Linked DNA regions of Homo sapiens: all the other regions are linked to region 1. Evidence: fine-mapped expression QTL. A gene starts in region 1. Each other region holds a variant in brackets. All regions are shown on one strand. Distances are between the middles of the regions.

Region 1 (8,194 bases):
GGCCCCCGGGGTGGCTTCTGAGGTCCCTAGGGTCTCTATGAGAAAGATAGCAGAGGCGGGGCTGGAGATGAGGTGCTCTTAACCCAGGTTTTGCCCACAGTTGGTACAGTAGTGGGGGAGGGTTCAGTCTCCTCTTTTTTTGCCCCTTGCTTTTCCTCCCTTCTTTCTTCCTAACTGGGAGGAGACAGGATTGCACAAAGCGAGGCCCTAGTTTTGCTGAAGAGGGGTAAAAAGCCTGGGGGGAAAGATTGAAGCCCTGGTGACTTGAGGTCCCCTCCCTCTTCCTAAAAGCAGAGTGAATGATTCTGTGCAGGCAATAATAATAATACTTATTATAATGATGCTGCGGGGGTCTCCCAGATCATGCAAGAGGGCAGGCAGGCTGAGCAGCTGGTCTCGGTTATGAAGATACAGAGGTGTTTCATGCTGGCTGGCACAAACCTCTGCCCTGAGCCCCCACCCTAGGACCCCCAAGACTGCCCCAAGATCCAGCAAGCACAGGGTTAACATGAGTCATGGCAAGGGGCCTCCAGGACCTCTGCATCATCTCCAGGGGCTGGAGGCAGGGCAGGACAGGTAGGTAGGACCTTGGCCAGCCCCTTCCTCTTTGGTAAACTGAGGATAACACTATGGAAAGTGTTCATACATGCTCATGGTTCTGTTGCTCTTTCTATTTCAGTGCTCCTGCCCTCAATATTTTTTTCCCTTAACCTTTTCTAGACCCATAGGTTTCTTCCAAATTCTGGGGCCGAACTGCCTCAACCATCCACCTCTGTTCTTAAGCCCATCAGCACCCACCACAAGGCGGACGCTGACATCCAAGAGGCAGCTCAGTTTAAATTAAGAAGTTGAGTTATCATCTCTAACTAGAGCAAAAGCAACGGAGCAGAGAGGGCTCCCTGCAATGCAACTTCAGCACAGAGATTGTGAAAACCACCCGCAGGCGAAGGGAGGGCAGGGCAGCCAACTTGACCGTTTCTAACCCACTCACCCACCACCCTCCCCCTGTGCCAGGACTGCAGAACCTCTTTATTTTTGTTGACTTCGAACTAGGACAACCTCACTACTTAACCAACAAAGCCCCCCAAGTCTGAGACTCAGACATTAAAAACTTCTATTTTCAATTATTTGTCTTCTTTCTGTATATTGATCAAATTACCACAAACCACTAATCTGTTAGAAATTAATCCAAGATTGAGCAATTCTACAGCCAGTTAAGTCAGAGTGGAGAATTAATGATTAATTAGCATCATAATGCTCAACAACCCCCCCACTTCCTCTAATGCGTATGCACGTACAGACACATTCTTTAAGAAATGTATTACCAGAACTGGTAGGAACTCTTCTCAGCACGTTACCCACTTGAAAACACTAGAGAGAAACCATAGCCAGTCTGTGTAGCTGCCCTGAAGCTATGACTCTATGCCGGGTTTTAAAAGTCCATATCTCTGTGTTTTTAACGTGCAGCTCCCTGGATCATAGATACCTTGATGAAGACAGAGAAGAAATTTTACACCTGTGTGAGGGTTGGGTGATTACTGGAGCACAAAGAGAGACATAATCCAACCACACAATGATCCCTAGGAGACAAGAGGCCTACAAAACAGGTAAAATGTCCCTGGAACAGGAAATGTTCTTGTCACCAGGCCAATTGGTTACCACAAATAAATTCTTTTTCCAAATAACACAAACAAGCAGGGTTTTCCTGCTTCATCCAAGAGGAGGGAGCAGCAGCAGGAGACCAGCTGTCTTGTGTATAGTCCCAATGTTTGCTTCTAATAGCAAGACAAATCCTTGATGGAAAATGTACAAAGTAATTGAGCTGGCAAGGAATCAGAAGGAAATACCCAGGCCCCTTTCTTCCTGGTGACACATGTATGCCATCTTCAGAAGCTCAGAAACAAGCAGGAAAAGTGAGCAAAGGTGAAGATATATGTATTACTTCGGGTTTCTCATCCATCTAGGGGATTTTCCTTAATTGTCGGGTTTGATTTTAAATGAATGCCTGTACAACCGGAAATCAACTCCAGTACAAAAAATAAAGTCATGTGGAATTTTTGAAAATTGCCATACGGTAGGATCCATATCTGAGTTGTTATAATGAAAAAAGAATTCCTGCTTCTTAAATTTAAAAATTATAAAGTATACATTTTAGCTTTGTTAACATTGCTCAGCCTAACATTAAAACGGCAGGGGAAGTAGGTCATAGAGAAAGCGGCCCCGCCCCAGATGGCACATGATAACGACCAGAGGAGAAGCAGGGGCCATGCTCCCCTGTCACCTGGGGTGACTTTCTGGGGAAGACTTACTTGGGTGTGCCTGTGGGTTTCCAGTACCTGCAGAAGAGGTACTGTCCGTCTGCATTGACCAGGTGAGGGAGGTCCTGGTAGGGAATGCTCTGCGGGGTCCGCCTGGGGGAACTTTCCTCTGGCATGCTGGAAGGGTCTTCAGGTCCTAGAAGGAAAAGTGACATATTCCAAAGTCAGAAATATCTCAAGAACATGTATGGATAGGAGAGAAAAGTCTAGTTCAGAGTCAGTAACATTTTTTTAAAAGCAGTTTAAAAAACCCCTCTGTTTCAAAGGTTTAAAACATACATACATTTCTTGCAAACCTCTCCAAGACTGAAAAATCCCATTTGTTCTTAAGAAAATGCTCACTTTATTTTTTAAGTGCCTCATTACAGTTTTTCCCCCTTCCCATCTGTGTTTATTTTAAATCATTTCAGGAAACTTCATCTTAAAGACTATTTTAGCTGTAATCAAGTGGAAATTATAGTCAGCTCTATGGGTACAAAGACCCAGCTGCAAGAAGACCCATCTATCTTAAAATCTCCAAGGAACAGTTTCAAGTGGGCACAATAATGAGGTGGATGATACTCAGATTATTCCTCCCATCTGAAATTCCAAGGATACATGACAAACCTGTTTCCATTATGTGCTGGCGTTTGCATTCCACAACCACGACAGCCTGGAGAATCAGAACCAGGCAAATCGGGCTGTTCCCTCATCTGGGCGGCCCCAAGGCAGCAGGAAGGCAGCTCCGAGCCCTCTTCCCGCACCCAGACCCTGCCTTTCGGGCTGGGGCGCTCAGCCGGGAGCCTGCTTCCAGCTCCCACCGGCAGGCTCTCCGGGGCTCCCCTCCCTCCCCAGGGCGGGGAGCGGCGCTGCGATTCTCCACTACTAGTTCATGTCATCACTTTTCCTAAACAAATCGCTAGAGGGGCTCGGAGAAGGGAGGGGCCCGGGAAACTGGGAAACTAGCTCCGCGCACACCGAGGCACCTCGCAGACGCACAAATGCGGGTGCCCAAGGCAAAGTCGCCCCCAAGGCTTCTCACAAACTTTGCTTCCTGTGCGTCTCCGACAGCACAGGACACGTAGCCCCGAAGCTGTCATCGGAAATGCCGCTGGGAAAACCGGGTGGGCTTCGCCGGGTGTCTGCACCGGGGAAGGTGGGGACTAGAAAGATGGAGTTGATGGGGACAAGTTGGTTTGGGGGCTGGTGCGAAGGAGCAGGGAGGGCGCGCGCGCGCGCACACGCGCGCACACTCGGACACGCGCGCACACACACCGTGCACACACACACACGCACACATGGGTAGCGGGAGCCCACGCCGGGCGTGTCCGGGACCCCAGTGCTGCTCCCCACCCCTGACGGCGGCACTGGCGGGCTGGGGCAGGGGCCGGGAGGCAGTTACCGGGGCCACGAGCGCCGCTGTCGCGTTCCCCGAGCGCAGCGGATCCTCGTTTGCGGCGGGCCAGGGCCGGGACGAGCTGCGCGCGACCGGCTTCGCGGCGACAGGGTGCGGCGTCTGCGCCGCCACTTTATCCCTGGGCCGGCTCGGCGGCGGGGGCGGCCCGAGGTGGGTGGGGACGCGCGGGACCCGGCGGGCGGCGGGCGGCGCGGGGAGGCGGCGCCCGGGGCCCACGTGTGCCCGGCCCGCGGGGAGGAGCGGGGGCGCCGCCCGCCGACCCAGCCACGCACTCCTCTCCTCCGCGCCTCGTGGACAGCCGCGCCCCGGGGTGGCCGCCCGAGGACTGTCAGGGAGGCCTGAACTGAGCTGGGTTCATGGGAGCCTCAGCGCGGGAGGACACACCACACCCACGGGCACACGCGCGCACACAGACCCACAGGCACCACACGTACACAGACAACTCGCGCAGGGCCGCACACTCACCACACGTGTACACATGTGCACTCCCAAAGTCACTACACTGCACGCAGGGACATACAGACACACATCCCAGAGATACCACATGCATACAGACACACACAGACCACACATGCATGCACACACACAAGCCGAGACATAGGCACAGACAACCCACAGAGACACAGAGGTGCACAGACATATGCAGACTATACACCTGGCCCCCACATAGACACAGACACACTCACATCATACACACACAGTCGCACACAGACACACTCACACTTCATTGCAGTCAGACACATACAATGCTGGAGGGGCAATTAACCGGTCGTGGTGGCATGCGCCTGTAGTCCCAGCTACTCAGGAGAATCGCTTGAACCCGGGAGGCAGAGGTTGCAGTGAGCCGATACCACACCATTGCACTTCAGCCTGGGTGACAGAGTGAGACTCCATCTCGGGGAAAAAAAAATGCTGGAGGGGGTCCACTTGACTCTAGGGTAGTGTAAAAGCAGATGGTGCATGGCTACAAATGCCTTGTCCCTTCCTGGCAATCCCCAGCAACTCTCCCGTTCCCAGCGGCTGTGACCCCCAGATAAAACCTCTGGTGCATCTACACAGGCCAGGGCACAGTCTGAGCTCTGTCCAGTATAACTAGCAACGTGGCCGTGGAGGGTAAGGCCACTGGACTGAGACTCCACACCACCTGGGTTGAACATTAGCTCCTCCGCTTGCTCTTTGAGCCTCAGTCTACCTACCTTCAACCTGTGAGTGATATACCTATGCCCCAGTGGAGTGTCCCTGTCTCACACTGACCTCAAGAGGCCTTCCTGTCTTTCTCCGCAAAAAATTCTACACCATAGCAGCGTTGAGGACTGTGTCTCAGCGTCACACTGTGTGTGTCCAAGGAGGCCCAAGTTGCTACAGAGCCTGTGGTCTAACTTGAGAAATAAAACAACAGCCTTTGAGCAGTGGCTTGAGTTGTAGGCACTGCTGAGCGTGACTTACCCACTGTCTGGCCTCCAGCAGGCCACGAGGCCTGGAGCAGAGGAGTGGCTAAGTGACTTCTGGTCGGGGCAGCTCTACAGAATCCATGCAAGAGAGGTTTAGGGGCGGCAGTCTCAGGGGCAGGAAGCTTGGGGGCTTCACTCAAAGCTGGACATGCTAAGTGCACCGGATTTCCGTTGGTTATAATTCATGGAAAGGAAGGGTGCTCGGGGGTCTGATGGACGCTTTTATCAAGGCATTATTTCAAATGTTCCTGGCTCTAACATTTTATGATTTAAAATACACAGCTTGAAAATTTGGAGGAGAGGCCGGGCTCAGTGGCTCACGCCTGTAATCCCAGTCCTTTGGGAGGCCAGGCAGGTGGATCATCTGAGGTCAGGAGCTGGAGACCAGCCTGACCAACATGGTGAAACCCCATCTCTACTAAAAATACAAAAATTAGCTGGGCATGGTAGCGGGCACCTGTAATCCCAGCTACTCGGGAGGCTGAGGCAGGAGAATCGCTTGAACCCGGGAGACAGAGGTTGCAGTGATTGCACTCCAGCCTGAGCGACAGAGCAAGGCTCTGTCTCAAAAAAAAAAAAAAAAAAAAAAAGCTTTGAGGAGAGACTTCACTGAAGTTGTCAGAGGGATCTCAGTAGAAGTGACATTTGCAAACTTGAAGAGATCCCCCAAACTTGGTTATGGACAGAACTGAGACTGTGGTGTGTGGCCAGCCAACTGGGAATTTGGGAGTTAAGAGACAGATCGTATTGTTCTGTATCTGGCTTTTTCTTTTAATTAAACTTATTCTGAGATAATTGTAGATTCGCATGCAGTTGTAACAAATAATAAAGAGAGATGCTATGTGCCCTTTACTCAGTTTCCTGCAATGGCAACTTCTCACAAACCACAGTAAATATCACAACAGGATACTGACACTGATAGAATATCTGTAGTCAAGCTACAGAACGTCTCTACCCCACAAAGTGGTATGCTTTTATAGCCACATCCACTTCCCTCTCATCCTCACTCCCCTAGAACCCCTGGCAACTGCTAATTTGTTCTCCATTTCTAAAATTTTGTCATTTCAAGGATATTTTATGAATAGAATCATAAAGTACATAACCTCTAGGATTCACCTTTTCATTCAGCATAATTCCAGGTGGGTTGGGTGTAGCAGTCCACAGTATGGAAGTACCACAGTGTGTCTAACAGGTCATCTGCTGAAGGATATCTGCGTTGTTTCCAGTGTTTGTTGATTAAGAATAAAGCTGCTGTAAACCTCCGTGTACATGTTTTTGTGTGAACCTAAGTCTTCATTCTCTGAGATGAGGGCCCAGGAGTGCAATTGCTGAGCTGTAGGGAAATTGCAAGTTTTTAAAGAGAATGCCAAAATGTTTTCCAGAGTGACTGTAGCATTTTACATTCCTACCAGCAGTGTAGGAGAGAACCAGTCTCTCAGCATTCATGTCAGCATGTAGTGTTGTCACCATTTTAAAAATTTTAGTCTTTCTGTTAAGTGTGTAGTGATGATATTTCACTGTGGTTTTTAATTTGCTTTTGCCTAATGGCTAATGTTGTTTCATGTGCGTATTTGCCATCTATATATCCCATTCAGTAAAATGTCTTTTCTTGTCTTTCGGCTATTTTCTTGCCCCCCACCCCCCTTTTTTTTTTTTTTTTTTTGAGACTGAGCCTCACTCTGTAGCCCAAGCTGAAGTGCAGTGGCGCCATCTTGTTTCATTGCAACCTCCACCTCCCAGGCTCAAACAATTCTCATGCCTCAGCCTCCCTAGTAGCTGGGACTACAGGTGCAGGCCACCACACCTGGCTAACTTTTTGTATTTTAGTAGAGACGGGGTTTCATCATGTTGCCCAGGGTGGTCTCAAATTCCTGAGCTCAGGCGATCTGACCGGCCTCAGCCTCCCAAAGTGCTGGAATTACAGGCATGAGCCACCACGCCCATCCTTTAGGCTATTTTCTTTCTTTCTTTTCTTTTCTTTTTTCTTTTTTTTGAGACAGGGTCTCGTTCTGTCACCCAGTCTGGAGTGCGTTGGTACGATCTCCGTTCATTGCAGCCTTTGGCTATTTTTTAATTGTTTGCTTGTTGTTTTCTTACTGTTGAGTTTTGAGAGTTCTTGGTATATTCTAGACATTAGTCTACTAGATACTAGATGTGTGATTGCAAATATTTTCTTCCAGTCTGTAGCTTGTCTTTTAATCCTTTTAACAAGGTCTTTTGCAGAGCAAAAGTTTTCATTTTGATCAGAAACAATTTATCAATTTTTTGTTTTATGGATTATGCATTTGGTGTCAAGTCTAAGAACTCTGTGTAGTCCTACCTCAAGAGATTTTCTCCTGTGTTTTTCTCTAAAAGTTGTATAGATTTACATTTTATGCTTAAGTCTGTAAGCTATTTTGAGTTACTTTTTGTCTGGAGTGTGAGATTTAGATCAAGGTTCATTTGTCTCTACATGTCCCATTGCTCCAGCACAGTTTGTTGAAAAGGCTGCCTTTCCTCCACTGAATTGCTTTTGCACTTTTGTAAAATTCAGCTGCCTGCTTGTACAGGTCTATTTCTGGGTTCTCTCTTTTGTTTCTTTGGTCTGTGTCTATTCCTCCACCAATACCACACAGTCTTGATTATTGAAGTTCTCTATAAATCTTGAAATTGAATAGGCTGGTTCCTCTCACTTTATTCTTCATTTACAAGACTTTTTTTTTTTTTTTTTTTTTTTTTTTTTTTTGGTAGAGAAGGAATCTCTCCATGTTGCCCAGGCTGGTCTTGAACTCCCGGCCTTAAGCCACCCTCCCACTGTGACCTCCCAATGCACTGGGATTACAAATGTGAGCTACCACACTCAGTCTACAAGATTCTTTGAACGATTCTAGTTCCTTCACCTTTCAATATAAATTTTAAAATAACCTTGTTTATATTCATTAAAAATTTTGCTGGGATTATGATAGGAATTGCATTAAACATGTATATTCTTCGAGAACTGACATTTTTACTATTAAGTCTTCCAATCCATGAACATGGGTATATATGTC
Region 2 (8,000 bases), 62 kb before region 1:
CCCACCCTGTAAATAAATGTTGGGCTTGGCCATGTGACATGCTTTGGTCAATGGAAGGTGGACAGAGTGATGGTAAGAAAGTCTGAGTGCAGACTTTAAAAATCATCACCACCATCAACAGCTTCTGCTGTTGTCCTAGAAAAGAACATGACTCTCCTAGCCCACTGTCCCTGGAAGCTGACAGACATGTGGAGAGAGCCGAACCCAACTTGAGGCCTGGAGCCACACCCAGCCAAGCCCAGCCTAAAACAGCTGACCTACAGACACAGGAGAAAGCATGAGTTGTTGTTTTAGGCTGTTGAGTTTCGGGGGTATTTGTTATGCAGCATTATTGCAGTAACTACTGGCTCAGTCGGGAAGGCAGCAATCTACATATATTTATTGATTTCTAATTTTTAAATTAGAAACTGCCCTAGGCATATCCCAGTGCCTGTATATAATATATAATACACACAGACACACATGCACACAGACATACACACACATATATACAACCAGTGAGATGGCTTTTGGCTTCAAGAAATTGATGACTTAGCTCTGGAACTCTCCGCTTTCAAAGAACACTGAGATTAGCTAGATGCCCAGTTGCCAACTCCAGCAGGAATCGTAACTCCAAGTGAAGTGACTACACCAGAGAAAGAAACTCTTCATTGAACTCCCTAAAAGAAAAAGCACCCAAAGAACCTTGGGGACAATGAAGAAAGCTGTGACAGTGTCACGAAGCTGGGGGACCTGCCTCCGAGAGAGTGTTTCTTGACCCCAACCTGGGTAGATCCGAATCCAAGCTCAGGGTCCTCCTGACCCAGATGTGTTCAGCCACGTGTCATCGACACCTTGTAAACAGATTGCTGATACAGGAGTGCCGGGAAGAAACGCACACTTGCTTACACTGGTGGGGCACCTAGCACACCTGTAGGTACTTGGCTGATGTTATTCCATCAAATCTGTACGGGAGCTGCCTGGGGGCTTCTGTTCCTGTTTTATAGAGGAGAAAACTGAGGATCTCTGGGCCCTGTGTGGCCAGCTGCACACGACCTCTGTCTCCTCTCCTACAGTGCTCTCCTCTCACCTCACCTCCTGTCTCCCGACTGTTCATGAGTCAGGCACCCTCCTGCCCCAGGACCTTTGCACTGGCCACCCCCTTTTCCCCTGGTCATCTGTGAGGCTCCTCCTTGCCTCCTTTGGGTCTTTGCTCAACTACCACTTTCTCAGTGGAGCCAGCAGCTTGAGCATGGCCCCCTGCCCCCACTGCCCCGCCCTCCTCCTCCAAGGTTTTATTTTGCTTTGTGGCACTTATCTCCAATGGACATACCCTAAAGTCATTTATTGCTGCTCATTGTCTGCCAAGGGCAGGGACTTGTGTCTGTTTTGTTCACAGCTGCATCTCCTGTGCCCAGCACCATGCCTGGAGTTGGTAACTGGGCATCAAGCTAATACATTATAGACTGAACGAATGAATAAATACACGAATGAGGCTTGGAGATGTGAAGGAGCTTGCAAAAAGTCAATAGCTAGAAGTTTTTCAAGCTAGACAGAAGCCCAGGTCAGCTTGGCCCTCTTAGAGCAGCCCCTGAGCCTTGTATAATTAAATGGTGTGTTCCGTTGTTAGTGCTGACAAAGTGCCAGTCTCCTTTCCTAACAATTCGGCTGTACCGAGCGAGGAGAATGGGGGAAGTCACCTGTAATTTTCTTTTCTGTCTTCCCCTTTAAAAGGGTCTTTAAAAATCAGATATGTGTTATAAAAAACAATGGGATAATGGGTCGATTTTTCATATCATGACAAGCAATTGCTAGGGAGAAAAATATCATTCTTGAAAATGTGCAAAAGTGCACTGGCTGTAAGTTGTAAACATGACCCTCACAGGAAAGGATATTCTGGGGGCTCCTGGCACCTATTTCTTTCTTTTTCTTTTTTTTTTCTTTTCTTTTCTTTTTTTTTTTTTTTGAGACAGAGTCTTGCTCTGTTGCCCAGGCTGGAGTGCAGTGGTGTGATCTAGGCTCACTGCAACCTCTGCCTCCCAGGTTCAAGTGATTCTCCTGCCTCAGCGTCCTGAGTAGCTAGCTGGGATTACAGGTACATGCCACCAAGCCTGGCTAATTTTTGTATTTAGTAGAGATGAGGTTTCGCCATGTTGGCCAGGCTGGTCTTGAACTCCTGACCTCAAGTGATCAACCTGCCTCGGTCTCCCAAAGTGCTGGGATTACAGGCGTGAGCCACTGCGCCCGGCCCTGGCAGCTATTTCTCACAGCGTCCATTATTATAAACCAGCTCTCCTATTCTGTGACCCCAGCAACTGAGACACAGAGTCAGGCGGCTCTCAACCCTTCTCTCTGCTATGCGTGACCCTGGCTAACATCTCCAACCTCTGCGGGACTGTCCTTACCCCTCCCTTGGTCCCCTACCACACCTGATGTGACCAAGGCTCTCAGCACCGTGCCTGGTACACAGTAGATGCTCACTGGAGGTGGGTGTGCCTCTCTTCTGAATCACGTGCTCAAGAGGGATGTCTGTGTTCACCTGCGGCCATTTAAAAATCTCAGCTGTGGGCATGTTCTCATGTCTCACTGCACCTTCCCCTGCTTAGAGGTCATTTTCCAAGGAAGGGAAGAGAGAATGTAATTCACAGAAGCAGTGCCACTTTACAGAGATGCTTTGAGCCCAGAGATCCCGATGACTTCAGAGACTCTTGGTTCTCGTGTGGACTGGGAGGAAGGAGTGGCCTGATGCAGAGCTCCTACCTGCTCAGATCAGCCCAGCTCCTTCTCCCTCACTCAACACAGGGTCCTTGGAATCGGTCCCTTTGGCCTTCAGATGATTCTCCTTTTTTGGTAAGAAAGCTTCCACTGAATAAAACCTTTAAGTGATTTTTCCAATCTGGTGGCGTCTGTACAATAACTGAGGAGAGAAATAATTATGATTATGGGGTCTGAATGATCCAGCACTTCTCCACGACTCTGAGGAGGAGGCAGCTGGCCCCTGCCTCTCACATTGACTGTCTTTGCGGGCAGGCCCTGCTTAGACGGCTTGGTTTTCTGCGTTGGAGAAAGGAAGCCAGTGGTGTAGCAGGGAGAGCGCTGGATGTGCACACAGCTTTCAAAGAAAAGCAAAGGAAAGATGACGGGAGGGAAGGGCAGAGCCACACAGGGGTGGAAGCATCCATTTATGGGACATTGAGTTTGTGTGGGGTCCTATGAGCTAACGTTTCCATAGGAAGCCTCAGGCCTAACATACAGATGGGAAATCTGAGGCTCAGAGAGGTCAAGTGACTGTCCTGGACACACAGGTATAAAGAGTAGGCCAGGCCACTCTGCCTCCACCCAGCAGGTTCACATAACAGAACTCTCTGGGCTAAGCTCCACTTGTCAACAGGGGACCAACCCCTCTGGGCTCACACCATGCCACACAGGGCACGTGGGTGCTGAGGAATGAAGGTGAAAGGACCTTGTTCTCCCCCTGCAGTCAGCCCCGATGCTGGCTCTGTCCCTCATCCAGGCTCAGGCGCCACCTCTGGGAGTCAGAGCATCTTCTAGCAGAGCCTTGGCAGGAGGCGAGGTGAGGAGCTGGCACGGCACCCCTGACAGACTGCGCGTCGCAAGCTATTCCTGGAGCCGCTGCGGCACTTCTGTCAGATGATGCAGAAACCCCAGGGCCACTCGCCTGGGGGCTGTGCCCCACGCCAAGCTGCTCAGAGGCACAGCACTGATTGGGGGGCGCTGGTCCAATGGAACCTGCGGCTCTGCACCCCAAAGCATTTTCCCAAAAGTTAAAACTGTAGCAAGGTGCAAGTGTGTAAGAATTTCAGTCCGACTTTGCCCCCTAATGACTGTGAGCTTGAATAAATCAGGCAGCATCTCTGAGCTTGTTTCCTCCATAGGGACGTTGCCTGCCTTACTCTGCTGCCGTAGGATTAAATGGGGTGATCCGTGGAAAAAATTATTAGCACAGAAGTCATGGATTTTTCCAGCTGGGCAAGCGTTATTTGATTTTCTTTAAACAGGGCTCATCCTCCAGGCCAAATTCATACCCACACATACAGGATTCACAAGTGTGAACTTGAGCGTATCCAAAGAAACCATCATTTCTGTGAAATGCCTTGTAATTCTGCAAGCCTTCACTGAGCAGCTGCTATGAGCAAGGTGCCACACAGATGCGGAGAGCAGAGGCCCCAGTTGCTGTGTTCAGATAACGTACAATTCCCTGTGGCCATCCGGACCCTTCGCACTATCAAGGGGCCCACCGCCTGGGAGGGATTTCTGGGGTGCTGATGACCAGACTGCGTCACTTTCCAGGGCCCACTGGGCAAACTGGCTTCTCCCCTGCTGCTGTGTCTTGTTAGAGCCACCGTGTTGTGTTGGGGGTGCTGGCTTAGTTTAGGGTGGGGATGAGAAGCTTTGAGGGACCAGGGTGGAGGCCTCCCCAGGGCTCCTCCTTCTCCAGCAAGCAGTACTAACCTCCACAGCCAGGGTGGAAGCCACAGAACACTCAGAGACAGCAGTCAAAGAGGCCACTTCTGCACTGCCTGGACCAGAGACTGCAAACTGCCCTTCAAGCTGCATTTCAAGTGCCTTCTGTGTGTGTGTCCACGTGTTCCCCTAAGCGACTGGGCTACACCAGTCCACCACAAAGGTACTGT[G/T]GGTTTCCTCTTTTGGCTGGTGAGGACACGGAGGCACAGAGAGGGCTGGCGCACAGCCGGCCGTGGGCAGAGCTGGACTGCCACGCAGGCTGCCTCCCTCCTGGCACGTTCGGCTCCTCGCTTCATCGGCCGGGCCCTTGGGACCCCAGCTCTTCAGGGAGGGACTCCAGGCAGAGCTTCATTCTCAAATGCCCAGACAAGCACTAAATATGCGTAGTGCACCCAGCGCACTTGCCGGGGAGTTGTGACTGCATCTGAGGATCCCATGCAAGGTTTGGGTCCTCTGTTTGCTTTTTAATTTCTCCCTTTACCTCTAACAGGGGAGAAACCAAGACACCGAGAACACAGCTTAATAGATCTGTGATTTGGAATTCTGATCCTGGCTCTACCACTCCTGGCTTGTTGTCTCTCCTGTAAAATGAAAATGACGATGGCTTTACCTGCCTTGGAAAATGAAATGAAATGAAATAGAGAATATGAAGCCCTTCAGAAAGGGCAGCCTGACAGTGCAGTCGTGGTTTATTGCTTCCACGTTAGTGACACATGAAGCACCTTGTCTGCCGGCATGCGGTTCTCTTTTCATTTTGAGCAGGACCCCACTGGGCTCTGCTCCTGAGCTCTCCGCGTCCTCCCCGCCTGCCCTGACGGTTGGCAGCATTACAGCCGTTTATTTTTAGTTCTTGGTGGGCCAGCCATTTCCTGGTCACATGCTGTTTGAGCTCCCACTTCAGAAAGGCTCAGCTCACAAGACAGACTCTGCCCATTCCCACCCCCAGCCTTTCTTAAGGGCTGTGTCAAAGCGAAGCCAGCCCTGACCCTACCTATTTTAAAGTTCCTTTGAGGAGTCCTTTCTTCTGGTCCACTTGCAGCCAGAGTGATTTTGAAGTTTAATTTACGAAATGGGTGGAGAGGTGCACAGAACCTGGTTCTGGGAGCTGGGGCCTGAGATCCGGGTCCAAAACTGCCACCAACTGGTGGGACCTCGAAGTCTGTCCCCTACCCTTGTACAATGAGAAAGGGAGGGGCAGAGGCTTCGTTGCAGGTTCCTTGCAGCCCACTGCTCTGTCAGGGACCATCAAATGAGAGCAGTTCTGGTCATTACTGCAGCTTCAGTTATGAGTATGCACGTAGTAACAGGTGCACTTCCTGCATGCTGCTCTGGGCCAGGGCCTGTTCCAAGCAATTTATCAATGGTAAGTTTACAGATTGGAGCTCTACACCTAGGTACCATTATTACCATCTCAACTTCACAGACAGGAGATGTGATGGGGACGCCTCAGGCCAGGTCTGTGTTTGTGCCCTGCAGCTGGGACTGGAACCCAGTGTCACTCCAGACTCTGCCTTCCCCCCATGGCAGCCTCCCCAGCTTTGCCCTTGATCTTCATGTGTGCTGGATCACAGTGTGTCACTCTGATTGGGGAAAGATGTGTGATCCACCCTCCTTGAATGTCTTTAGGGAAATACTCAGTATTTGGAGATAGAAAAACAACAACCACCATGCAAGGTCCTTATTACCTAGGCAGGGTGCAGCGATGTGGATTCATAGGATGTCAGGTGTGCGGTGAGTGTGCAGGCTGCCCCAGCAGCCAGGGGACAGGTGTGCCAGAAAGAAAGGCTCCGGAGGGTACATCATCTCCAAGATGGATTTGAAGATGCCAGTCTGAGGATGATAGCAACAACTGCCAAAGACCGAAACGGCTTCTTCTGGGGACCTAGAGTGATGTCTGTTTTCTTCTCACCCTCTGGCCCCGCGAAGCCAGGTTGGATGCAGAAAACACTGGGCTGTACCCAGTTGCTGTGGTAGCACGGGCCCCTCAGGCTCAAGGCCAGCTCTGACTCAGTAGAATGGGGGACCCTCACAAGCATGCCACAGTGTGGCTTCTGCTTGCCAAGGGGCCTGCCACAGCAGCCACGGCCATCTGGATCTCGGACCCTGCCCAAGCAACCTGGGTGGGGACATCTCCCTGGAGCCCCACCTGGACCTGTGCTGAGGCCAATCCAGCCCCTGACCTGGCCTGGAGTGGACCTCTGTCTGTGCCCTAAGCTCGGCCACTGTGGTCCTTCCCTCTGTGCTGCCTCGCTGAGCTTCCTTCCTTCCCCTCCCGCCCCTTCTCCTCTTCCTACTGCCCTCCCGTCCTCAAACTCTCCCAGAGACTGAACCCCTGTGTGGGGGAGGGGGAGGTAAGGCTAAACTGCAGATGGGTCTTGTCCTCAAGGAGCAGCTAAGTTTACTGATGTCGCCGTAGTCATTACACCCACCTCAGTGTGCAGTCTCAGCTGCGTGCTGGGAAGACAGGAAAGGAAGACCCAGGTTCCGACATGGGTGGAAGCAAGAGGCTCCACCTCCACCCTCCTCCCTCCCGGCTCTCAGGCGCTCCTCCAGCTTCTCGGAGCTTGCATGCCACTGTCTAAGCTGCAAATCCCCAATGCCCATCACATGGCCTCTCTGGGTGGCACCCCATGCCTGATGCTGAAGTTGCCTGAATACCACCCCCAGCTGTGTTCCCCTTTCCTCTCAGATGCAGGAACCCACCTCTGACATGATAAAGATGGGCCCTGGGAGGGGCACACACTCTCCTCTGTGAGCATCTGCTCCCACCACAGACTCCTGGGGTTCTAGGAAGCCTAATGGCCTAAAGACAAAGGGCAACTCTGTCTCATTTGGGGAAGAAGTCGTGCCAGAGAGAACGAGGCTGCAGACCTGGAGTGGAAGGGGTCCCACTGGCCTCTCAGCACCTTGTGACTTTACTATGTCTCCCTGCCTGCAGAATGGGCGTACAGATATCAAGGCCATATACTTGTGGTGCAGAATAAAAGAGAAGAAGGACGGAAAGCCCCCAGGAGAGGCCCGGGCCACAGTTGTGCTCTGCTGTGGGTGAGAAGAGGTGCATGTTTGGGAAGCTCACGTGCTCTCCTCATCTGTAATAATTACCACACCTACTCCAAGGCTGTAATGAGGTTCAAGGCAACGTCTGAAAAGCTTTGCATCGATAATCAGGCATATGATAAATATTAATTAATGTTAAATATGAATATCATCTCTCTCTGAGAATTCTTATAAATACTCCATGCCGTAGGTAATATCACACCACTTTTCAAATTTGGAAGCCACACTAGTTAGCATGAAACTGTGACTGGAGTCAAATCAGGTTTTCCTAAGGCGGAAAAGTAGTCACCCCAACATAGCCAATATTTATGGAGTACTCTCTGTGGGTCAGGCCCCCCACATAGAGGAGCTCATTTGGTTCCTTTTTAATCCCCCTACTGACCCTATGGGGTAGAGACTTTGACTCATCCTTTACTGTAGATGAGAAAACTGAGATGCAGAGAGGTTAGTAACTTGCCCAGAGTCACATAGCAAATAAG
Region 3 (8,000 bases), 94 kb before region 1:
GACATTTGATTCACATGGTACAAAATCAAAGTGGCATGAAAGATGTACACTGACGGTCCCTTTCCCACTTCCTCCCATCCACCCGATTCCCTATCTTCCCCTAAACTCTTCTCTTAGTGTCTCAGCCTCTTTACAAGCAAATACAAATATAAATCCTAATTTTTACCCCGGTCCTAAACACAAAGAAACACACAACAGATCCTGCTCTGTGTAGGGCTTCGTTCACTTGACACCATATCCTGAAGATCTTCCAACGTTTGAAATAGGGCTCCTCCCCAGCTTCTTACTACAAAACTTTCAAATGCACAAAAACACTGAAAAAAACATTCCAATAAAAACCCATATGCCTACTATCTTTATTCAACAGTTGTTATTTTATTTGCTGTATACATACACATTTATGAATATAAAAATGGCTGAATCTTTTAAAAGTAAATTGCAGGCTGGGCAAGGTGGCTCACATCTGTAATCCCAGTGCTTTGGGAGGCCAGGGTGGAAAGATCGCTTGAGGCCAAGAGTTCACAATTGGCCTGGGCAATATAACAAGACAGACCCTGTTGCTAAAAAAGAATTTAAAACAGAAACTGGACATTGGTGGCGTGGTGGTGCACACCTGTAATCCTAGCTACTTGGGATCACTGGAGCCCATGAGGTTGGGGCCGCAGTGAGCTGTGCTCGCACCACTGCTCTCCAGCCTGGACAAAAGTGAGACCCTATCTCAAAAAAAAAAAGAAAGGGAAAGAAAGAGAAGAAACAGAAGAAAGAGAAAGAAAGCAGGAAAGAAAGAAAGAAAGAAAGAAAGAAAGAAAGAAAGAAAGAAAGAAAGAAAGAAAGAAAGAAAGAAAAGAAAAGAAAGAAAGAAAGACAGAAGGAAGGAAAGAGAAAGAAAGAGGAAGGAAGGAAGGGAGGGAAAGAGAGAGAGAAGGAGGGAGGGAGAGAGGAAGGAAGGAAGGGAGGGAGGGAGGGAGAGAAAGAAAGAGAAAGAAAGAAAGAGGAAAGAAAGAAAGAAGGAAAAGAATGAAAGAAAGAAAAGTAAGTTGCAGATTATAACAACAGACAAATCTGGGTAAAGGATCTAAAGGTTTTTTATTTTTTTTTATTTTTTATTTTCTTTTTAGTAGGAGTCTCACTCTGTTGCCCAAGCTGGAGTGCAGTGGCGCAATCTCGGCTCACTGCAAGCTCCACCTCCCAGGTTCACGCCTCAGCCTCCCGAGTAGCTGGGACTACAGGTGCCCACCACCATGCCCAGCTAATTTTTTTCTATTTTTCAGTAGAGACGGTGTTTCACCATGTTAGCCAGGATGGTCTCGATCTCCTGACCTTGTGATCCACCCACCTCAGCCTCCCAAATTGCTGGGATTACAGGTGTGAGCCACCGCGCCTGGCCTACAGGGGTTCTTTATACTATTCTTGCAAACCTTCTGTGAAGTTGAAGGTATTTCTGAATAAAAAGTGTTATAAAAATAATCTATTAACTATTAAAACACTTCACCCTAAACACTTCAGCATGCTTAGTGACATTCTCTTCAAAACTACAATACTATTTTCCTGCCTAAGTAAATTAGCAATAGCTCCCTAATATCATCTAATATACAATCCAAATTCGAATTTCCCCATTGTCTCCAAGTATTTTACAGCTGGTGTTTTAGAACCAGGATGCAAAACTCTTATGCTGTATTTGTTTGCTATGTTCCTTTAGTCTTAGAGGGGCCAGGCTAGTAAATGCCTTACATCCTGTATCTGATTGTTTCCCGTCATGGTCTGTCATTTGACTTGTTTCTGTGTTCCCATTCATTACCAAGAACTTCCCCCCTTCCTCAACACAAATGTACTAGGCTCACCTTATAATTTCCTTGTCCCAGATTTGGAATTAACCATTTCTCCAGGGAGCCCCACTTCCTTTCAGTGTTTAAACATCAAGATTTAAAGTTGGGAGTGTCCAATGCCACCGAGGTGCCTTTGCTTTCATGCTCTTCATTAGGCAGAGCTGAAAAACTTAATTCTTTTTTTTTTACATGAGACTTAAGAAAACTTAATTCTTAAAAAATGAGTCCATATAGATATTTTCAACTATAAATCAATGTTCTGGCTAGGCGCAGTGGCTCATGCCTGTAATCCCAGCACTTTGGGAGGCCAAGGTGGGCAGATCTCTTGGGCCCAGGAGTTTGAGACCAGCCTGGGCAACTTGGCAAAACCCCATCTCTACAAAAAATACAAAAATTAGCCTAGCATGGTGGTGCACACCTGTAGTCCCAGCTAGTCAGGAAGTTGAGGTGAGAGAATCGTTTGAGCCCAGGAGGTCAAGGCTGCAGTGAGCCATGATCGTGCCACTGGGCTCCAGCCTGGGCAACAGAGCAAGGCTAAAAAAAAAAAAAAAAAAAAAAAAACAGAGCAAGAAATCAATGTTCTAAAGTTTTCTCTTACCTTCTTTGATTTTGTATTTTATCTCTTTTCTTTTACACTGAAAATCTTGGTTCCTAATAGCATTAACATATTTACTTATAGCATAGCGTCAAAATTACAATACCAATATTGCCACCAATAATAAGCCTACGGCAAGAAGCTAGAATTGCTTTGCATTTTTTTGTCTTTAGAATATAGTTCAATCATAATATGACTAGAGTATTGTGTTTGAAGTTTAAATTCTTACAAACAGGTTATAATTATTTTCTCTGTGTGCTTATGTTACTAATTTGATAATTAGATGCATTAACTTCAAATTAAATTTCTTTCCATTTGTAGGTTTTTCCTTCTTGCTTTTCAATTTAATTTTCTTTTCCAAATATGAAAACGTGTACTTGACACAACAGTCAGAAATATATTAAAAAATTCATCCAGTGAAGTCTCACTTCTACCCCATCTCCTCCATCTCCCCGCTCGTTCCCTAGCGTTAATCATTCTAATTATTTTCTGTTTTTTCCCTCTAAGCATTTCTTTTTGCAAAAATAAGAAAACTACCTGTTTATCCATCCATCCATCCATCCATCCATCCATTTATCCATCTAGTCTATCATCTATCTATTCTCTGTCTAATCTATTTATCCATCCACCCATCTATTCTTATTTTTCCTCCTTTCTTACTTAAAAGATAGTATGCCACATATCCTACTCTAGAAACAGTCTTGTCTATTTCTGGATTTCTACCAGGTTTTCTTTTCCTCACGTTTAACATATTCTGGAGGTCACTCTGTGTCACAGATCCCAGACCTGCCTCCATTCTGCCTTACTGTTGCGTAGTACGCCCTGTGGGGGTGAACCATAGTTTTTTCAAGCACTCTCTCATCGCAAAACACTTGGATTGTATCCAAGCTCTTATTTATTAAACAGTTGGCTGCGGTAGATAAACTTGGACTATTTTATGTCATCTGCATGATGTTGTATCTTCAGGGTATGTGCCTAGATGCAGGATTGCTTGGCTGAAATGTAAATGCATATGTAATTTTCGTAGGTATTACCAAATTCCCCTCCATGTGGGAGTGTCACCTTTCACTCTATGAGTGAGATGCGGGAGAGGGCCTCTTTCTCTTGGCATGACCAGCAGACTGTGTGTTTGACATTTAGGTTTTTGCTCATATGATAGGAGACAAAGTGTGGGTTGAACATCTCAGATTTTAAGAGCCATTACTTCTTTTTTGGTAAACTGAGTATTCATGTCTTTGCTCATTTTTTTCTATGGGGGTTTCGCATCTCTTCTTAACATTTAGGAGCTGTTTGTATATTAGTTGGTCATTTGTCTTTTGACTTTGTTTACATTGTATTTAGCCAAGCAGAAGATTCTTATTTTTGGTTTCTTTTGAGATTCTTATTTTTGAATAGTCAAGTTATCAATCTTTTCACTTTATGGCTTCTGAATTTTGATTCTTGGTGATAAAGGCCTTCCCCACTCCACGGGTATAAAGGAATTCAGCCATATTTTCTGTGACTTATATTTCTTTTGCAGTGAAATATACATGACCTAAAAAATTAACCACTTTAAATGTACAGTTTAGTGGTATTAAATACATTCACATTCTTGTGCAACCATCACCATCATCCATCTCTAGATAGTTTCATTTTTTTACATTCGAATCTTTGACCCATTTGAATTTTGTCTTGGTGTAGGGTAGGAGATACCCATCTTTTACCAGACCTTTTTTTCAATTCAGTGAAATTCACCTCACAAAAAATTAACCATTTTAAAGTGTACCGATTTAGTGGCATTTAGTATGTCCACAATATTGTTGCAACACTATCTATAAGAAGTTCCAAAATGTAGATGGTTTGTAATCGTCTCAGCAGAATTTATGAA[C/A]AAGTCCTTCATTGCTTCACTGAATTGCAATGTCATCCTTATCATGTGTTAAAGTTCCCTTTTCACTCAAGCCCAGTCTATTTCTGGATTTCTGCTCAGCTCCACTGGTTTGCTTATTCATGAGCCAGCCCCCATATTATTGAGACATTATAGGAGCCTGCCCTTGACACACATTACATGCAGGAGGCCCCAGGTCACTCTGCGAGCTCTCCCTGGTCCAAGCGCATCACTCCCATGCTTTGACTCTGATGGTAATGTAGGCATCTCCTGGATAAACTGTTTCTGACTCTGGCTTCTTTCCAGAGCTACAGATCCATCCTGCCAACCTGTGGTCAGACTCTCCTGGCTGTTCCACAGCTCCTCAGATTGCTTGCAAATAATTGGCTCTCCTTCACATAGCGGTTAAAGGCCCTGTGAGCCTTCCAAATTATTCAGGCTCAAAACAGGGCTGTCGTCTTTGACTTTAATTCTATTTCTACATTCAATTGGTCCCCAAGTCCTTCTAGATTTCTGCATCCAGTCTCCTTCTTTGCATGTTATATCCCGGTAGGGGTGGAGACTGTTGCTGCCTTTGAACTTACAGTAGCTTCTTCTCCAATCTCCCTGCCCAACCCCAGGCTCTCCATGACCCACCTCCTCTTCCGGAAGCTGCTCTGATGGTGTCGTGGTCCGACGGCCCCCACTGTTTGAGAATGCAGCCTGCACATCCCAGCCCAGTATTCCCAGCCTCCCAGGAAGGCTTCTACTTGTTCCTCTGCCACAATCTGAGCCACATGCACACCCACCTGCCCACGGTTCCTGAAGCATACGCACACGTTCCTGCCCTGTGCCTCTGAACAGGCAGCCTCTCCTTGAGGTCCTCACCCTGCCCCAGTCCTTTAAGGCCCTTTAAATCCCTTCATCCATGGCATCCACTGTAATTCCCTAAATGCAGGTGCAGCTTCCGGAAGAGGAGGTGAGTCATGGAGAGCTTAGGGTGGGCAGGGAGATTGGAGAAGCTACTGCAAGTTCAAAGGCAACATACCCCTTCCATAACCCTGAAGCACTTCTTGCCCCTGTCACATGTGAGTTGATCACAGTCCTCCCTCGTTTTCTCCTCTAGCACCATCCCCCACCCTATAGATGGAGGGTCCTGAGAGCAGGGGTGCCACATGGCTCTGTGCTGCAGTGGCTTCTAAGGTGAGTGTGGCTGGATGGGGCGCAAAACAGTCCTGAGTGAACGATGATGTTTGTGTGGACTTGGGGAGGGAATGCACCGTGCATGTGCCCATGTCTGCCAGGGCCGTCTTGGAGAGCAAAGATCATACTTTATTCACCTGTGCATTCCCTAGGGTTCCTGGCACGGGCCTGGCAGAAGGTGGGTGTTTGATCAATGTCTGTTGAAATGAATTGTAGGCAGTGTTTCCATAATGGCCACTTACCAAAGAAACTCAATTCCATTACTCTAGCTATAGCTGATGCAATATGTTTCCTTGACCACCATGGAAACAGAGTTTGTTGAGAAGTAGTTTTGCATCTGTAATGAGAATTCTTTTTCTCCTGGTTTTATTTATGTATTTACACATTTGTTTTAGAGACAAGGTCTTGTTATGTTGCTCAGGGTGGATTCAAACTCCTGGGCTCAAGCAATCCCCTGCCTCAACCTCCCAAGTACTGGGACTACAGGCGCACACCACTATGCCTGGCTGCTCTCTTGGTGGCTTTTATTATTATTATTATTATTATTATTATTATTATTATTATTTTAAAGAACCCTGCTTTGCAGACTTTAAGATATTTTTAGTTTTGTGTCTCTATGTATTAACTATGTTTTTAAATTTGCTGTACTTTGATGCTTTAACATCTCAGGCCTTGCTGATCCTGGAAAGACAGTCCCACCCCATCATGGATGGGACTTCAATTGCCTTTATCAGACTCTCCCCGCTCCAGGCCACTGTCCCCCTGTCCTGATCACCTCAGGGCCAGGCAACAGACAATTAAGGACAGCCTTGCATCTGAGAGCCCTGAAATTCTTCAAACTAATCAATCCTAAACCTGCTCACTGCACCTCACCTGTTCTTCCCCTCGGAAGCCACAATAAAAGCCCCGGCCCACAGTTCCCTCTCCCTCTGGCCCCTGACCTGCCCCGTGCTCCCCTGCAGGGCCCTGCGTGGCATGCTTTGCCATCTGTTTCTAGGGACCTGTCAATGGAATAAACTTCTCCCCTCATGACAGTAATGTTCATGTCTGTGTGTCTTACCATATCCAATTAAAACAGATCCTAGGTACTCTTAAAACACCCCAGCACTGCATTCGATGCGAAGTATAATAAATTCGTGATAATCCTTTGTTGAATGATTAAATAGTCTCCTACAAAATATTTCTGTCTGAAAATAACTTTCCATGTTGTTACCATGTACAAAATGAGTCCCCCGGGAACCTATAGAACCCTGGTGATCCTGTTACTGCTGGAATGGGAAGAGCCAGCCTCCCCCTTCCCTTTTTTCAGGGAACCAGGCTTTCTTAGCATTCATTTTCTTACAGAAGAAAAAGCTGATAAAAAATAGCTTTGCGTAAGGAAAGTGAGACGAAGCCTTTAAAAAGTAGTAAAAACAGCACTTGGTATTTGTGTGAGAGTTCATAACGTACAAAGCACTTTTCCCAGAGTTTGTTTCATTTGTTCCCCACAAGCTTGTGAGGTAGGGATTCTTTCCCCATTTTCTAGCAAAGGAAACAGACCCTGGAGAGACTAAAGGGCAGCGCTCAGCCCCCAGTAGGTGAGCCACAGGGAGGGACTTGAGTACAGGGTGTGAACTCCAGACTCAGGGTTGTCACTCTCACAGCTCAGGGCAAAACACAGCAGGAAGCAGGGGACTGAAGATTGAGGAGGGAAAGAAAAGCCTTCTTAACAAGATAAAGAACCCGCTGTGTGAAAACACAGGGCTGGCATCTTCCCTACACGCCCAGACCCCAGGGCTTGTGCCTAGAGCTGCTCACCCCAGGTGAGTCCTGAGAAGGATCTGGTTCCGTGTCAGGCAGGGACAGGTGGTTCACACTCACCAGCACCTGCAGATGTGCAAACAGGGAGGCCACTGGGAAATGTTCTTCTGAAGACTTCACAAATTTCTAAGTGTGGGATACAATAGGAACAGAAGGGCTGGGCAGAGGCTAACCCTGGAAGTAACCACAACAAATGGCAGCCAATGTCCACTGGAGACCTCATGTCTATGAGGCCACCGAGTGCACTGACGGACACCATGACTGGGTCTCAGGAGGTTCAGTGACTTTTCCAGCCCAGGGCTGTCTGAGCAGAGCTGGGAGGAGCGGTGGGTGGAAGGAGGGTGAGAGTGCCAGAGGCGTTTGAACCAGAGCAACTCCATCTTGAACGGGGGCTGGGTAAAATGAGGCTGAGAGCTACTGGGCTGCATTCCCAGACGGTTGAGGTATTCTAAGTCACAGGGTGAGATAGGAGCTTGGCACAAGATACAGGCCATAAAGACCTTGCTGATAAAACCGGTTGCAGTAAAGAAGCCGGCTAAAACCCACCAAAACCAAGATGGCAACAACGGTGACCTCTGGTTGTCCTCACTGCTACAGTCTCAACAGCGCCATGACAGTTTACAGATGCCATGGCAACGTCAGGAAGTTACCCAGTATAGTCTAAAAAGGGGAAGCATGAATAATCCACCCCTTGTTTAGCATATCATCAAGAAATAGCCATAAAAATGGGCAC
Region 4 (8,210 bases), 920 kb after region 1:
CAGCCTCCCAAGTAGCTGGGACTACAGGTGTGCACCACCATGCCCCAGCTAATTTTTTATATTTTTGATAGAGATGGGATTTCACCATGTTGCCCAGGCTGGTCTCGAACTCCTGAGCTCCAGCAATCTGCTTGCCTCAGCCTCCCAAGGTGCTGGGATTACATGTGTGAGCCACCTATCTTTCTGTCTCTCTTTTTTTTTTTTTTGAGACAGGGTCTCACTCTGTCACTCAGGCTACAGTACAGTGGTGCCATCATGGCTCACCGCAGCCACGCCCTCCCCAGGCTTAGGTGATCCTCTCATCTCAACTTCCCCAGTAGCTGGGACTACAGGCACATGCCACCACATCTGGCTATTTTTTTGTAGTTTTTTTTTTTTTTTTTTTTTTTTTTTTTTTTAAGAGATAGAGTTTCACCGTGTTGCCTAGGCTTGTCTCAAACTCTAGGCCTCAAGTGATCCTCCTATTTTGGCCTCCCAAAGTGCTAGGATTACAGGAATGAATCACCATGCCCAGCTCTGCCCTGTCTTTAGAAACCCCACTCCCCTTTTTTTTAAGGATTTGTTCTTGTTTTTATTTTATATTTTAATGTTTTGAGACAAGGTCTCACTGTTGCCCAGGCTGGAGTATAGTGGCCTGAACACAGCTCACTGCAGCCTTGACCTCTTGAGCTCAAGTCATCCTCCTACCTCAGCCTCCTGAGTAGCTGGGCTTACAGTTGTGTGCCACTACGCCCAGTTAATTTTGTTTTTTTGATAGTGACAGGGTCTTGGCCATATTGCCCAGCTGGTCCCAAACTTCTGGGCTCAAGTAGCTCGCCCACCCTGGCTTCCCAAGGTGCTAGGATTACAGATGTGAGCCACTACTCGTCAAGAACCCTATGTTTTTCCATTATTCTTGTTTGAGGCTCTCCACAAATGGTCTCCAGCTTGCCTTCCTGGCTTTGTTTTTTTTGATAAAGACACATATTCCTCTGAGTTGCTTTATTCACCTTTTCCTTACCACACTTTGTTCCCTACTTCCTTTATCTTGATTCCTGTCAATTCCCCTTCATCTCTGTTTTCTAGCTCCAGTACTCTGTTGGCATCCTGCCTGACTCAGGTACCAGTCCACTTTTAAAGCTTTTCTTGACCACTTACGTCTATAGTGTTCTTTTTACTGAATCCCTGGGGCTTGCCACAGATTATCTTATAGTTGTGGATTTTGTATATGTATCTTTCCTACCTTAGGAGGGGGCCTTAAGGGTAAGTCCCAGACTGATTTACCTGTTTTTCCCCAAATGTTAACCATTTGAAAGAAAGAACTAAATGGATATTTCTCAAATGGCTTTTGATAGATACATGTACAATACATCTGTTGTCATACCTGGTTGGAAAAAAAAATGCCTGTAAATTCTTCACATTGTTTGAAATCAGTGTGTCAGAAGCTGTAGGATTGTAGAAGCTTTCTTAAGCAAGGCCATAGTATGGCTGTCAAATCTGTTACTAAGCTTTAGTCTCCATTTCTGAAAAACGAGAGTAATGTGTAATCCTTAAGATCCTTTCGTATTTTGACATTCTCTGACTCTTGGACATACTGCTGTGGCTTTTGCAACATCCTAACTGGTTAGTTGACACCATCAGAAACTTTAAGGACCCTGTTAGCCATTGAGTATATGGAGCTTTGCCCATTCGTTTCTGAGAGGCAAGAGGCACTGGTAGGCAGTTAGATTTTTCTTTAAAATGTGTACTCGTTTCTAAATTACAGAAGCAGTATAAAAGTCTTAAAGCGGGCCGGGAGTGGTGGCTCACGCCTGTAATCTCAGCAGTTTGGAAGGCTGAGGTGGGCGGATCACCTGAGGTCAGGAGTTCAAGACCACCAGCCTGACTAACATGGTGAAACCCCGTCTCCACCAAAAATACAAAAAGTAGCTGGGTGTGGTGGTGCGCTCCTGTAATCCCAGCTACTCAGGAGGGTAAGGCAGGAGAATTGCTTGAACCTGAGAGGCAGAGGTTGCAGTGAGCCAAGATCGCGCCACTGCACTCCAGCCTTGCCAACAGAGCAAGACTTCATCTCAAAAAAAAAAAAAAGTCTTAAAGTGAACAGTTTTTTTCTGTCATTCTGGATAATTTGATGGCTATAATTCAAAACGTTTATTTTTTATAAAATTTAAATGAGATCATAAAATACATACTCTTCTGCTATTAGCTTTTTAAAAATTTAACCATATAGTCAGCTTTTCTTATAAGTACATACTATTTTTAATGACTGTATAATATTGATCATAATTTAACAATCCTCTAAATGAACATTTCAGTTATTTCCAGCTCTTTAAGAAAAGTATTTAATAGGGCCGGGCGCAGTGGTTCACGCCTGTAATCCCAGCACTTTGGGAGGCCAAGGCGGGTGGATCACTTGAGGTCAGTTGAAGACCAGCGTGACCAACATGGTAAAACCCTGTCTCTACTAAAAATACAAAATTAGCCGGGCATGGTGGCACATGCCTGTAATCCCAGCTACTTGGGAGGCTGAGGCAGGAGAATTGCTTGAACCTGGTAGGCAGAGGTTGCAGTGAGCCGAGATTGTGCCATTGCACTCCAGCCTAGACAACAAGAGCGAAACTCCATCTCAAAAAAAACAAAAACAAAGAAAAGGGCTGGGCACGGTGGCTCCCGCCTGCAATCAATCCCATCACTTTGGGAGGCCGCCGAGATGGGTGGATCACGAGGTCAGGAGATCAAGACCATCCTGACCAACATGGTGAAATCCCGTCTCTACTAAAACAAATACAACAATTAGCTGGGTGTGGTGGCGTGCACTTGTAATCCCAGCTACTCTGGAGGCTGAGGCAGGAGAATCGCTTGAACCTGGGAGGCAGAGATGGCCGTGAGCCGAGATGGCGCCACTGCACTCCAGCCTGGCAACAGAGAAAGAAAAGTATTTAATATTTATATTTTCCTACTTATCTAATCATTTCCTTAAGATTTAGTGAGTATACATACTTAAAATTTGGTTTTCATTGCCATATAGCCTTCAGGAAGGTTGTATACTTTACATTTTGTAGTTTGAGAATTTCATTTATATACTTGTCAATTGTCAGTTTTCTTAATCCTTGCCAGTTTAATGAATGGGAAAAATTTAAATGATGTCTCATTGTTGAGGGCTTGTGTTTTGGCCAGGCCTGGTGGGTCACTCATGCCTGTAATGCCAGCATTTTAGGAGGCCAAGGTGGGAGGATCGGTTGAGCCCAGGAGTTCAAGACCAGCCTAGGCAACATGGTAAGACCCTGTCTTTACAAAAAGTTAAAAAAAAAAAAAATAGCTGGGTGTGGTGGCACATACTTGTAGTCACACCTACTTGGGAGATTCAGGGGAGGATCACTTGAGCCCAGGAGGTTGAGGCTACAGGAAGCCATGATAATTCCACTGTACTCCAGCCTAGGTGACAGAGGGAGATGTCTCAAAAAAAAAAAAAAAAAAAAAAAAAAGACTTGTGTTTCTTTGTTTGATAGATTAAACTAGAAAAATACTAACTACTTTTTTATATTCACTTAAATTTTGTAGAAATTTAAGTATATATAATTGTATAATAAATGTAGAAAAAATATTAACTACATTTTTTTATATATACTTAAAATTTTTTTTAACTTTCACTTTCTGCTTTTGTATATTTATAGTCTTTTGTGAATTGGCTTTTGTTCTCTAAAGCCCATGTGAGGTTCTTGTACCTCACCTCTCTCCCAGTTTATAAACTTTATATGGCAAGAATTTTGATCCTTTTCGTGTTGCAAACATTATTCCTGGCTTGTATCTCTTGGTCTTGTTTGGCTGATGGCATGTTTTTGTAACATAGAGACTTTTCTGTAGTCACATCTGTCAATTCATTTTCTGTGTTTCATATTATGCTTAGGCCTTTCCCACCCCCAGGACAATAAAAACAATGTTTTCTTCTAGTAATTCTAGCACTTAGCCAGGTATAATATGTCGGAATCTTTTCCCAAATGTATAGTTTTCCCAGTATTTTATTGTATTATCTTTTCTCTTTGACTAGAAATTTTTTTTATCACACAGTATATTTCCTACTTCCATGTCTTTTTTTATTTTTATTTTAAATAGATTTATTTACGAAATAGAGATGGTGTCTCACTATGTTGCCTAGGCTGGTCTCGAACTCCTGCACTCAAGCAATCCTCCCACCTCCACTTCCCAAAGTGCTGGGATTACAGGCATGAGCCACCATGCCTGGCTGTGTCTTTTGTTTTTTAACTCTTCTGTTTCATTCTTTGTCTGTGGGACAGTACTGCTGTCTTATTTGCGTCTGTTTTGTTTTATACGTATATACACAGATACATACACGCATACATATACATACACACAAACATTTTTTTTTTCCTTGGAGACAGGGCATTGCTCTGTCACCCAGGCTGGAGTATAGTAGTGCGATCATGACTCATCGACTCATTGCAGCCTTGGCCTCCCAGGCTCAGGCGATCCTCCCACCTCAGCCTTCTGAGTAGCTAGTATGTCCGGAATTGGTGGGTTCTTGGTCTCACTGACTTCAAGAATGAAGCCGCAGACCCTAGCGGTGAGTGTTACAGTTCTTAAAGATAGCGTGTCCAGAGTTTCTTCCTTCTGATGTTCGGACATGTTCAGAGTTTATTCCTTCTGGTGGGTTCGTGGTCTCGCTGGCTTCAGGAGTGAAGCTGCAGACCTCCACGGTGAGTGTTACAGCTCTTAAGGTGGCACGTCTGGAGTTGTTCGTTCCTCC[C/T]GTCTAGAGTTGTTTATTCCCCCCGGTGGGTTCGTGATCTCGCTGGCTTCAGGAGTGAAGCTGCAGACCTTCTCAGTGAGTGTTATAGCTCATAAAGGCAGTGCAGACCCAAAGAGTGAGCAGCAGCAAGATTTACTGCAAAGAGCGAAAGAACAAAGCTTCCACAGTGTGGAAGGGGACCCGAGCGGGTTGCCCATGCTGGCTCGGGCAGCCTGCTTTTATTCCCTTATCTGATCCCAGCCACATCCTGCTGATTGGCCCATTTTACAGAGAGCTGATTGGTCTGTTTTGACAGGATGCTGATTGGTGTGTTTATAATCCCTGATCTAGACACAGAGTGCTGATTGGTGTGTTTACAATCCTCTAGCTAGACGTAAAAGTTCTCCAAGTCCCCACTAGATTAGCTAGACACAGAGCACTGATTGGTGCATTTAGAAACCTTGAGCTAGACACAGAGTGCTGATTGGTGCGTTTACAAACCTTGAGCTAGATACAGAGTGCTGATTGGTGTATTTACAATCCTTTAGCTAGACATAAAGGTTCTCCAAGTCCCCACTAGATTAGCTAGACACAGAGTGCTGATTGGTGTATTTACAATCCTCTAGCTAGACATAAAAGTTCTTCAAGTCCCCACTCGACTCAGGAGCCCAGCTGGCTTCGCCTAGCGGATCCCGTGCCAGGGCCACGGGCGGAGCTGCCCAGCAGTCCCATGCTGCGCACCTGCACTCCTCAGCCCTTGGGCTGCCGATGGGACCAGGCGCTGCAGAGCAGGGGGCGGTGCCCGTCGGGGAGGCTCGGGCTTCACGGGAGCCCACCGCAGGAGGGCTCGGGCATGGCGGGCTGCAGGTCCAGAGCCCTGCCCCACGGGGAGGCAGCTGAGGCCTGGTGAGAATTCGAATGTGGCACAGGTGGGCTGGCGGTGCTGGGGGACCCGGTGCCCCCTCCACATCTGCTGGCCTGGGTGCTAAGCCCCTCACTGCCCCAGGCCGGTGGCGCCAGCCGGCCACTCCGAGTGTGGGGCCCTCCAAGCCCACACCCACCCGGAACTCCCGCTGGTCCGCGAGTGCCGCGCGCAGCCCCAGTTTCCCGCCCATGCCTCTCCCTCCACAACTCCCTGCAAGCAGAGGGAGCCGGCTCCAGCCTTGGCCAGCCCAGAGAGGGGCTCCCACAGTACAGCAGCAGGCTGAAGGGGTCCTCAAGCATGGCCAGAGCAGACGCCGAGGCCGAGGAGGTGCTGAGAGCGAGCAAGGGCCACCAGCATGTTGTCACCTCTCACTGGGACCACAGGTGTGTACCACCATGCCTGACTAATTTTTTTTGTAGAGATGGGGTCTCAGCTTGGACATTGGAATTGCTAGCCAAAGACATTAGAGCAACTGTCAGCAATATGCTCAGTGGACTAAAGGAACCACAGATGAAGAACTGAAGGAGAGCAGAAATACAGTCTCTGAACAAAATCAAGAAAGAGGCTGGGTGCAGTGGCTCATGCCTGTAACGCCAGCACTTTGGGAGGCCAAGATGGGAGGATTGCTTGAGCCTATACGTTCAATATCAGCCTATTCAACATGACAAAATAATTTCTCTCTCTCTTTTTTTTTTTTTTTCTGAGACAGTCTCGCTCTGTCTCCCAGGCTGGAGTGTAGTGGCATGATTTCGGCTCACTGCAACCTCCATCTCCTGGGTTCAAGCGATTCTCCTCCTCAGCCTCCCGAGTAGCTGGGTTTATAGGCGCCCACCACCACACCCAGCTAACTTGTGTATTTTTAGTAAAGACGGGGTTTCACCATGTTGGCCAGGCTGGTATTGAATTCCTGACCTCAGATGATCCACCTGCCTTGACCTCCCAAAGTGTTGGGATTACAGGTGTGAGCCACCGCACCTGGCCAAATTCTTGCTCTTAAAAAAAAAAAAAAATTGGCACATGCCTGTAGTCCAGCTACTTGGGAGGCTAGAGTGGGAGGATCACTTGAGCCCTGCGGTTGGAGGCTGCATTGAGTTATGGTCACATCACTGCACTCCACTGGGTGACAGAGTGAGACCCAGTCTCAAAAAGATAGAAACTATAAAAAGGAACTATACAGAAATTCTGGAGCATAAAAGTACAATAACTGAGATGAAAACTTTATTAGAGGGGTTCACCAATAGATTTGGGCAGACAGAAAGGCCCATACCTGGGTCAGCCCTCTTAGAGGGACTGATCCATTTGGGAGACATTTGAAATTTATTCTCTTAGATATTTTGAAATATGATACATTATTATTTGAAATATGATGCATTATTATCGACTACATTCCACTGTAATAAAAAGAAAACATCACAGTGGAAAGGCCACACTCCTTCATTATCCAGTTGGGAACCTCAGCAGCACAGCCAAGTGATCTGCTAAGCTGCTTTGGGGACCACACCTGTGCCACTTGTATAGCTCCCAGCACAGCCTGGTTCACAAGAATTCCTTATCCTATTGTGGACCTTTTGGCCCAATTAACACAGGCCCACAGGATTTAAAGTTGCCATTGGTCCTTGTGAAAAGCTAACCAGGTAATGTCAGTGTGAGGTCACATACAATGTGTGTGTTTCTGCCCTGCATTTGGCTCAGAGCCACTTGTAATAATTTTTTGCTGTTGAGGTTTCCTTGATACTTCTCTGAAGTCACTTTTTCTTTTTTTCTTTTTCTTTTTTTTTTTTTTTGAGACAGATTCTCGCTCTGTTGCCCAGGCTGGAGTTTAGTGGTGCGATCTCGGCTCACTGCAAGCTCTGCCTCCTGGGTTCACACCATTCTCCTGCCTCAGCATCCCGAGTAGCTGGGACTACAGGCATCCGCCACCACACCTGGCTAATTTTTTTGTATTTTTAGTAGAGACAGGGTTTCACTGTGTTAGCCAGGATGGTCTCAATCTCCTGACCTCATGATCCACCCGTCTCGGCCTCCCAAAGTGCTGGGATTATAGGCGTGAGCTGCCGCGCCCGGCTGAAGTCACTTTTTCATTAAATTTTTCTGGTTAACTTCAAGTACTGCGTGTCTACCTGTTGCCTAAACTAGGGTATGCACTGCCCCAATTCTGCAGGGAGGGTGCAAAACAGCAAAATTAGATGTGACCCATCTTTCTGGAGTTTCAGTTGTACTGTAAAATTTGGAAGAAACAGTAGTTTATTAAGAATCATCTTTTTTTTTGTTTTGGAGACAGAGTTTTGCTTTGTTGCCCAGGCTGGAGTGCAGTGGCATGATCTCAGCTCACTGCAGCCTCTGCCTCCCTGGTTCAAGCAGTTCTCCCACCGCAGCCTCCTGAGTAGCTGGGATTACAGGTGCGCGCACCACCATGCCCAACTAATTTTTGTATTTTTAGTAGAGACGGGGTTTCGCCATGTTGGCCAGGCTGGTCTCGAATTCCTGACCTCAAGTGATCCACATGCCTCAGCCTCCCAAAGTGCTGGGATTACCGGCCTGAGCCACCAGGCCCGGGTGAGC

What was found. PIP is the estimated chance that this variant, and not a neighbour inherited with it, causes the effect.
Region 2: its variant is fine-mapped to the expression of MGLL in whole blood (TOPMed, PIP 0.96).
Region 3: its variant is fine-mapped to the expression of MGLL in monocytes (Quach 2016, PIP 0.95).
Region 4: its variant is fine-mapped to the expression of MGLL in lymphoblastoid cells (GTEx, PIP 0.93).

The regions. Positions count from the first base shown.
Region 1 is chr3:127,819,385-127,827,578 of GRCh38, forward strand. MGLL (monoglyceride lipase) reads right to left here and starts at 3,131. Exons shown (of 8, transcript NM_007283.7): 1 at 2,925-3,131; 2 at 2,310-2,454. The coding sequence starts at 2,934. RefSeq lists a silencer at 3,573-4,092.
Region 2 is chr3:127,756,996-127,764,995 of GRCh38, forward strand. The region is part of intron 3 of MGLL (monoglyceride lipase); the gene reads right to left. Among named protein-coding and RNA genes, the nearest start is that of MGLL, 62 kb to the right of the region's middle. RefSeq lists enhancers at 5,975-6,024, 7,815-7,864, 7,985-8,000. The variant G/T (reference allele first, on the strand shown) is at 4,635.
Region 3 is chr3:127,725,343-127,733,342 of GRCh38, forward strand. The region is part of intron 3 of MGLL (monoglyceride lipase); the gene reads right to left. Among named protein-coding and RNA genes, the nearest start is that of ABTB1, 56 kb to the left of the region's middle. The variant C/A (reference allele first, on the strand shown) is at 4,289.
Region 4 is chr3:128,737,460-128,745,669 of GRCh38, forward strand. All of the region lies in intron 1 of RAB7A (RAB7A, member RAS oncogene family), which reads left to right. Among named protein-coding and RNA genes, the nearest start is that of RAB7A, 15 kb to the left of the region's middle. The variant C/T (reference allele first, on the strand shown) is at 4,745.